2 linked regions of the Homo sapiens genome follow. The protein of the gene in region 1 interacts with the protein of each later gene in a pairwise test. Each region holds a gene or a part of one and is shown on either strand. Other genes may lie near its edges.

What was found. Proteins that work in one complex are often made in the same cells at the same time.
Region 2: the proteins of MYH3 (region 1) and DYSF interact in a two-hybrid assay, tested with the Homo sapiens proteins (one large-scale study listed by BioGRID and IntAct).

The regions. Positions count from the first base shown.
Region 1 is NC_000017.11:10,653,476-10,659,593, forward strand, and holds the start of MYH3 (myosin-3), read right to left. Parts: upstream 3,835-6,118; 5' UTR 3,814-3,834; exon of another isoform or gene 3,761-3,813; intron 2,674-3,760; 5' UTR 2,615-2,673; intron 1,598-2,614; 5' UTR 1,590-1,597; coding exon 1,386-1,589; intron 1-1,385. UniProt on the Homo sapiens protein: Muscle contraction.
Region 2 is NC_000002.12:71,469,699-71,473,198, forward strand, and holds part of DYSF (dysferlin), read left to right. Parts: intron 1-3,500. UniProt on the Homo sapiens protein: Key calcium ion sensor involved in the Ca(2+)-triggered synaptic vesicle-plasma membrane fusion.

The DNA of each region.
Region 1 (6,118 bases):
CCCACCCCTTTCCTGCCCTTTCTGGGGTCAGAGTGTTATAAGCCAGGCAAACGGCACCATGAGGCAGAGCAGTGGTTCTGAGCACCTGCACTTCTCTCAGCAGGACAAACCCCCACACCCTCGGGAAGCTGGAGGACCTCAGGCACAGGGGGTGGGGAACTTGTCTTCCTCTTCCCTGCCCTGTCCTCACCTCCTTTTTCTCTGTGACCTCCTCTGAAATGGTCAGTTTTCCTGGTTCTGTCTCTGGGCAGTGTGGATGGGAAACCTGCCTTTTCCCTGCCTTCAAGCAGGGATTCATTCAAACCATCCCGGCCAATGGGCCCTGGCTGTCTATGATGGTCTCTTAGGTTCATCTTAGATTATCATTCACTGTATCTAGCTTCCTCCTTCCCTGACGTGTTAGCAGCCCATTCTTAGCTCCTTATTGGAAATACACAGAGAGCCACCTTTTCGGAGCTCCAATGCTTGGTAGCACTGCAGGGCGGTTCTTATTTTTTGGGGGGACCGAGTCTTGCTCTGTCTCCCAGGCTGGAGTGCAGTGGCGTGATCTAGGCTCACTGCAAGCTCCACCTCCCGGGTTCACGTGCAGGGCGGTTTTTAATGCCTTTTTTCCTTCATGCCCAACCCAATGATAGTATTTCCTTTACTTGTCTCTTTTATTTTCTTTCTTTCTTTCTCTTTCTTTCTTTCCTTCCTTCCTTGCTTTCTTTCTTCCTTCTTTCTTTCCTTCCTTCCTTCCCTCCATCTCTCTTTCACTCTTTCTTTCTTTTTTCCTTTTTTTGCTTTTTACTTTTCTTGGGACTTTTCCAGATTCTCCTGATGTGGATTTTAGAAACTAGTGAGCTCCAGAATTCCTCGCAGCACCCCCACAGTGGCTTGGGCCAGAATGTAATGGGCTGCAGTGCTCATCCCCTTCATGATACAAGGAGGCTGCTATTTCACTGAGCTTGTGGTCCCCTAGGATCCCTAACACATTTTCCTTACTTCCTTGGTTAGATGGCCATTGATAGAATAATTTGGGACAAATCTAGGCTACCAAAGGAGAGTGTTCTGAAACAGCGCTCATTCATGTTGAACTCCCAACTCCACACCCTTGGGACACGTGGAGCTGGGCCCCTCTGGCCTACAGTGAACGTGGACAAAAATACCTGAAAACTAATTGTTTTAATCAGCCACAGCCAGACTCTATTCCCACCCTGGAACCTGAGGCCAGTATTCACTCTGCTTTCTCTGAGGATACCTGGGAAGCCCCAGGCTACATTGTATGCGGCATTCCAGTGCTGGAACCACATCTGGAAGTGGCTGGGGTTGGGCAGATGCATACCCCAGGCAAGCACAAGGACCAGGTGGAGGGCCAGCAGCCTGTGGAGGGTACAGAGCCTTACCCTGTTGTCCTCAGTTTCCACAGTGACCTTCCCATCCTGAGAACTCTTGATTTTCCCCTTGGCATATTCTTCCTTTGAGTCCACCACGAAGCAATACGTCTTGGCATCAAAGGGCTGGTTCTGAGCCTCGATCCTCTCCTTTTCTGACTTCCGGAGGAAAGGAGCAGCTATGCCGAACACTTCCATTTCAGTGTCACTACTCATGGTGTCAGCTGGAAGGCAAACCCACCCGGTGAGCTCAGCAGCCCCCTTGCCAGGCACCCAGCAGCTCCAGGCCTGTTTCAGCCTCCACCCTGCCCTCCTTCAGCCGCAGGAGCCCTCAGAGTCAGGGCCCCAGGAACCAGGCTGTCCTCATGCCTTGAGAAGCTCCACCCAAAGGGCTTCAGTGCTGGGAAATCACACGGGTGCATATTTATTGAGGGGCTTCTTGTGCGACAGTCTTACAGCCTATTTAACCCAAGCTCCTCAAGCATCTGAGGCTTGAACTGGCGATAAGGGGTTTGGAAGTGAGCACCACTCTTGGGACCGCCTTTTCCGCTTCTGTGACAACCAGGTGTTGCTGAGGGAACGTTTAAAAATAAACACCCTTAAAAAATAAACGCCATCTTCAAAGAGAGTGTGCTAATGGCAAACAGCAAAGATATTTTTGAACCATTTCAATCAAGGTGGCTACACGCTCGTATGCGGGAACCTGCCTTTTGCTTCCTTGGGTTGCTAAGAACAAAATCAAGCATCTGACATCAGCATCTGTTTGACAGTCCCCCAAATGCCACCTCCTCTCCCGCCTGACCTGTCCTTGCCTTTTTTTTTTGAGATGGAGTCTCACTCTGTCACAGACTGGAGTGCAGTGGCACGATCTCCACTAACTGCAACTTCTGCCTCCCAGGTTCAAGCGATACTCCTGCCTCAGTCTCTTGAGTAGCTGGGATTACAGGCACTTGCCACCACGTCCTGCTAATTTTTCTATTTTTAGTAGAGACGGGGTTTCACCATGTTGGTCAGGCTGGTCTTGAACTCCTGACCTCATGATCTGCCCACCTCGGCCTCTCAAAGTGCTGGGATTACAGGTGTGAGCCATTGCACCCGGCCACGACCTGTCCTTGTCTAAATGTGCTAGTTCCCCTGTCCCTCTGTGCCCTTATGGCCGGTGGGAGGAGGGAGAAAGGAACTGGCAAGCTTGGATTGCCTGGAGATCTCCAACAGCCGAGGGACAGGGCCCAACTTCTCACCTGAGAGTCCCACCTGCAGGATGAGAGCAGAAGACAGCAACAGCCAGGAGATCCCAGACCTGGAAGAATATGCACATACACAACTTAGCGGCACTTGGGGTGGCTGCGTCCATGTAGAATCGGCTTCTGACGAGTTAACTAAAAAGGATAAAGGGGCCAGGCGCCATGGCTCACGCCTGTAATCCCAGCACTTTGGGAAGCCGAGGCGGAAAGATGGCCTGAGGTCAGGAGTTTGAGACCAGTCTGGCCAACATAGTGAAACCCCTTCTCTACTAAAAATAAAAAATAAATTTAAAAAATTGCTGGGCGTGGCGGCAGATGCCTGTGATCCCAGCTACTCTGGAGGCTTAGGCAGGAGAATCATTTGAACCTGGGAGACAGAGGTTGCAGTGAGCCGAGATTGTGCCATTGCACTCCAGCCTGGGCGACAAGAGCAAAATTCTGTCTCAAAAAAAAAAAAAAAAAAAAAAAAGACTAATACTTTAAAGAGGCAGGCTGGAAGATGGAAGAGCAGATGGGACGTGACCCACAGGAAGCCAGGCAGGGAGGAAAAACCCTCAGCTGTGCAGAAATCTGGTTTCTCTCAGCCTGCACTGGCACCTTCTTCAGTCTTCCTCACTCCCATTTAGAATCGGACAGCAGGGACCGCATCCCTGCTTAAAGTCAACAGTTCGAGGGCAGGGGCAGGTCTCCTTGTCTGTGAACAGGCAATATCTCTGAGATTAATTTACACGCAATGCCCACAGCCAGTGTGGTCTTGAGAGGACAAGACACCTGGCAGATGTACAGCCCAGGTGGGGAAGGTGAGGGCAGAGTGAGGTCCCCAGTCCTGTTGACCCTTCATGGGTCACAGAGGCAATGGGAGAAGGTCAAGCCATGGCAGCTGGGCTCACGGGGCATCCAAAAGGATCCTGCCCAAGAGGACACTTGGAGAGGAGGACAGGGGAGAGTGTGTGGAGGAGAGAGAACCTGCAGGGCTCCTGCTTGGGGGAGGTGCTGGAGCCAGAGGGTGCTGGGTGTTTGGGCCCAGGGAACCTCGCTCTCTACACCTTGCTTATCCTAAGAAAACTCAGAAAGGCATGAGGCGCCACCTCAGCAGAGCCAGGCAGGGCCAGGGAACCACGCACGGGGTGTGGATGTGCTCACCGGGTGGGTGTGCTCCAAGCAGCTGAGACCTAGAAGAGGAGCCTGTGACTTACCTCCGCCCACAAGCGAGCCACAGAGGGCTGGCTGCTCCCCGGGGCTTTTATAGGCCATTGGTAACCCCCGCGGCTCATTCCTTCTCTATATTTGGCAAGAGGATGAGTGGCCCCCCCAAGCCGAGAACCAGCTTCTTCCACACGTATCTTTGTCGTTGCCAAGGGAAAGGTATAATTAGAAATGAGCAGGATCCATCACCATTTTCCGACCGCAGAATGTCAGGAGCTTGGGATGCCTTTCTCTGAACTTGGGGCCGGTGCTCCCTCCCCTGATGGGATGGGATGGCCTCACTCCAGGAGGAGTTGCGGGGGCAGCCACCTCCGTTCTCAGGCGCTCATCACACCCTGAACGCGGCGTGAGCCCCTAGCTATTGGGCACCAAGGACTGAAGTCGGGTGGCTTACTTAGAAATCTCATCATATGGAAAAGTGAATAAGACTGAGAGTGAAAAGTTGAAATCCTTTTTGAATTTTGAGCAAGATTTTATCACAACCTTGGGTTGTGATTGCAAAACCTGTGCCAGGAATAATTAATAATAATAATAATTAATAGCAATAATTCCCCTCCCCCCTTGCCCTCTTCTCCCTTCTCCTCCTTCTACTCCTCTCCTTCTTTCTCTTATTTTCTCCTATGCAACGTTCTGTCTCATTAGTATCATTATTAACTTAATTCTTTCTTAAGCTCTAATAGGACCAGCCAGTTAAGTTAGTGACGTGGATCTATGCTGCCAGCTCGTATTCCCGGCGACAGCTGCCTGAGGACCTGTGGCTATTAAGACAGATTACCAATTAGGAAAGACCAGCTGCTGGCTGGGATGGGGTAGGGGGAACGGTGGTGGCCTGCAGAGAAAGGGCGGACAAGGGGGGGCTGTCTAACAAATGTGGTCATCTCTAAATCAGGAGTGGAAAAATAAAGCCTCAAGAGAAGAGTAAAGTATGTCGGACGCTTTTGCCCATTCTCGTTCTACTTTTTTTTTCTTGACAAATCTTTGGGAGGATGGCTGGGTGGGCACCCTGTGGTTGCTTATTCCAAATAGAACTGTTTGTCCATGTTTCCCATAGAAACCGCCCCTTCCGTACACAGCAGTACCAAGCCCCGAAGTGGAGGCCACTCCATGAGGTCTGCGTGGGACCGGGGAGGCAGGGCTGCGGTCTCAGGGCAAAGGCACGTGTATGAAACATCCTCTGTGCTCTGGCCCTTACACACAGTGCTTCGAGAAGACGCAGAGGAAACAGAAGACGCAGCCTTTACCCTTAAGGGTTTGAATTCTAGATGATGAGTCCTGTGGATGCTACAGACGCATTTACAAAATTGAGGTGATTTCACATTGAAGCAACAAGTTTATGAAGCGCCTGTTCCGTGAATGCCAGGCAAGGCCAGTGGCCGCCAATGGAGTCAGTTGGGCAGGGCTCACTCACCCCTTGCCTGTCCACCAGCCACTGAGCGTTGCCCCCACCCACTGCCCCTCTCCCTCCAGGTGAGACTGACATGTCCATCCTTGGAGCCCCTCCTCATCCAAGGAGAGGGTAACCGTCACTCCTAAAGTGTCCGTCCATGTCGTAAAGGGAGTGGTCCCCTGGGGCTCTGCCCTGTTGGCCCAGTGATGCACTGTCTCCTTGGGAGTATTGGTCAGGACAGCCACGGACAGGTAAATATCACCGAGGGGAGCAGCGGTGTTAACAAGGTCCGTGGGGTCAGGGGACAGGGCAAGCTGTCCTGGCTACATCTCCAGCAGTGGTGTATGCAGGGCAGGCTGTGGGTGTGGCGGGGGTGGACGTGGGAACTTGCAGTTCCTACGTCAACACCCAGACCTGTTGACAGGAGGAACTGTGTGGAAATGAAATAGGGGGCAATTTTGCTTTTTCCCTTTTGCAGTGACCAATGTACTCATCTATCTATATAACTACATCCATACTCACCTCCAGGAGACAGAAAAGAAATATTCCCTTCAACATTTCTTTTAGTTCCCTTAAGAGAGCACCCATATCACGTTAGGACCTAATACAAGCTCTAAAATGCTGATGGCTTCTCGCCTGGCTTTCCACACTGTCCTTGTTTCCTTCCTTCTCTTCATCAGAATTCTTCATCTTCAGCAAACAAATATAAGTGAATCTAGGAGAAAACGTCACAGACTCCTAGAGTGTTCAGCTGTGAGATCTTGGCAGTTTCTTTTAGTCTGGATCATTCCTCCTATCTTACGTATTTATTTTTCAGTAATATAGACATCACTGGACACTTTTTATGTGTCAGGCACAGAACCCAGAACTTCCAGAGTGCTCCACATGGAGATGGCCTGGTCCCTGCC
Region 2 (3,500 bases), on another chromosome or scaffold:
CACCTCTATTAATAGTAGAGGCTACTAATGAATACTTCTCATTCTTTTGTTTTTCTATTAATTAATTCATTAACTAAAACTACCATGAGTAACTGGGCCATAGTAGATATTTTTGACTGATTGTGTCAACGAGCAGCTTAATTTCCTATAGCATTTAATTGTCTGTACTTCTTTTCTGCCCTGCCCATTTTCCATTCCTTAATGTGATTATTTATATCCCTCTATTCATGCAGTTAGTTCATTGAACAAATATTTACTGAGTACCTACTACGTGCCTGGTGCTTTTCTAGGTGCTTGGATGCATACAAGAACAAAACCAGATCCCTACTGCTTTAAAGCTGAAACATCTTATTTCCTTGAAGGCCAGATCTGCTGCGTCCCCACTTGGTGAATTTCTGCCCTGTGTCATCAGCCAGGAACCCAGAAGTCATTACTGACACTTCCCTCTCTCTCATCCTGTCAGGGCGTCTCCTCCTCCAGCCTCCCCCTCCCACCTCTTCTCTTCTTGATCTCCTGGGGGTCTCTAGATTTGGGGCAGGAGTTGGGGGATCTTATAGAACTAGTTGGAGGTGGATTCCTGTCGTCAGGGAACACTCTTAACTCACCTATGTAGGGAAAGTGGGCTGAAGGCCCCGGACTCTCTGAACCTAGCTGTTTACATATTACAAATGACTTAAAATATTGAAAACAGCGGCCAGGCGTGGTGGCTCACGCCTGTAATCCCAGCAATTTGGGAGGCCAAGGCGGGTGGATCATGAGGTCAGGAGATCGAGACAATCCTGGCTAACATGGTGAAACCCTGTCTCTACTAAAAATACAAAAAAAATTAGCCGGGTGTGGTGGTGGGTGCCTGTAGTCCCAGCTACTCGGGAGGCTGAGGCAGGAGAATGGCATGAACCCAGGAGACGGAGGTTGCAGTGAGCCAAGATTGAGCCACTGCACTCCAGCCTGGGTGACAGAGTGAGACTCCATCTCAAAAAAAAAAAAAAAAAAAAGAAAAGAGCTTTCTCTTCTCTTCCTTCTTTCCTTCCTTCCTTCTTTCCTTCCTTCCTTCCTTCCTTCCTTCCTTCCTTCCTTCCTTCCTTCATTCCTTCCTTCTTTTTTTTTTTTGAAATGGACTTTCACTCTTATTACCCAGGCTGGAGTGCAATGGCACGTTGTCGGCTCATTGCAACCGCCGCCTCCCAGGTTCGAGTGATTCTCCTGCCTCAGCCTCCCGAGTAGCTGGGATTACAGGCACCTGCAACCATGCCTGGCTAATTTTTATTTTTATTTTTAGTAGAGATGGGGTTTCACCATGTTGCCCAGGCTGGTCTCAAACTCCTGACATCAGTCAATCCACCCACCTTGGCCTCCCAAAGTGCTTGGATTACAGGTGTCAGCCACCCCGCCTAGCCTGTTTTCTTTTTATAAACATAATATGTACTTGCTGTTAAAAATGACAAACTACAGAAAGGCCATGAGGCAAGAGTAAAAAATAGCCCCAAATCCTGCCACTTTGAATTAACTTGTTAACAATTTGACACATTTCCTCCAAGATTTTTTTTCTTAAAAATTTTAGTTATAAAATTTAACATACAAGGAAAGTGCAGAAGATATAAATATATGATTTAATACAGTAGTTCTCAACTGGGGGCAGTTTTTTCCTCAGATGACATTTGCCAATGTCTGGAGACATTTTGGGTTGTTGCCACAGGGGTTGGGGGCACAGGGTGTTTATCTACAGGGTAGAGGCTGAGGATGCTGCTAGACATTCCACAGTGCAAGGGGAGGTCCCCCACACCAACCACAGAGTGATTCAGCCCACATAGTAATCATGCCACGGTTGAGAATAAATATGTGTGTGAAGAGAATAACTATGTAATATCACCCAGGTCAAACAGGTCAAGAAATAGCACCTGGCCAGCCCCATTTCTCCACCAGAAGTAATCCCATCATAGATTTTTTTTTTCCCAAATGTTTGCACATTTGCTGAAAAATAAACCAGGGGGCCGGGTGTGGTGGCTCACGCCTGTAATCCCAGCACTTTGGGAGGCTGAGGTGGGCGGATTGCTTGAGGCCAGGAGTTCCAGGCCAGCCAACAGGGTGAAACCCTGTCTCTACTGAAAAATACAAAAATTAGCCAGGCATGGTGGTGTGTGCCTGTAATCCCAGCTACTTGAGGGGCAGAGGCACAAGAATCGCTTGAACCCAGGAGGTGGAGGCTGCAGTGAGCCGAGATCTCACCACTGCTCTCCAGCCTGGATGACAGAATGAGACTCAGTCTCAAAAACATCAATTAATTAATTAAAAAAAAATCCAGGGTCATTTTTTATGTCAGTAAGTATTCTTCTATAACACCTTTATAAATATCTGCGTAATATTTTCTTATATGGATGCACCATCATTAATTTACTCAACCCCCTACTGATGAATATTTAGGTTATATAAGTGTTTATATTTATATCCAGTGCTTAAATTATACAGTCACTGTGAGGCATATTCTGGTGACTACATCTTTGGCCACATATTTAATTATTTCCTTTGGGTAAATACCAGAAGATGAATTGCTATGTCAGAGGTTATAGACAGATTTAATGCGTTGCTGCATTTCCCAAATTGTTCTTGAAGTCTGTATCAACTTTATCCTCCTGTCAGCCAAGTATGAGGGCTTATTTTTCTAATAATCCTGCTAACACACAGCATTGTCCTGTAAATCTTTGACACTTTCTTTCTTTTTTTTCTTTTTGACAGAGTCTCATTCTGTCGCCCAGGCTGGAGTGGAGTGGCGCGATCTCGGCTCACTGCAAGCTCTGCCTCCCGGGTTCACGCCATTCTCCTGCCTCAGCCTCCCAAGTAGCTGGGACTACAGGCGTCCACCACCACGCCAGGCTAATTTTTTGTATTTTTAGTAGAGACGGGGTTTCACCATGTTAGCCAGGATGGTCTGGATCTCCTGACTTCGTGATCCACCCGCCTTGGCCTCCCAAAGTGCTGGGATTACAGGCGTGAGCCACCGCGCCAAGCCAACACTTTCTTAAGGTTCAAATAGTATTTGTGATACTTCATTGTTATCACCTATTCGTATTTATTCTTACTGAATTACTTTTTCATTTGCCCATGGTGGAGCATGTTTGTCTTTTTCTTCATTAGTTGCAAGTGCTCTTTATGTATTGAGAATGTTACCGTTTTTGTCATAGATGTTTCTAGTATCTTCTCCAGTTCTGTTTGTTTTTCTTTAATTGGCAAGTAAAAATTATATGTAAATATCTTCCCCAGTTCTAATGTAAATATCTTCCCCAGGCCTTCTGAGTTTAAAGACTACTCTTCTTGAAGTGCATTTCACCCTGGCTCCCTCCCTTTTTGGCCACTTCTGTGGTTCCAGCTAGGATTTAGGAAGGTGGGGTGGAGGGTGGTTGACGGGGAGAGGAGCAGTGCTCTGCTGATGATAGGGGAGACAGCTGCCCAGTTCTTGGGGTGTCCAGGCCTGAGAACACCATGGCAGGGCAGGTGTCAGAATG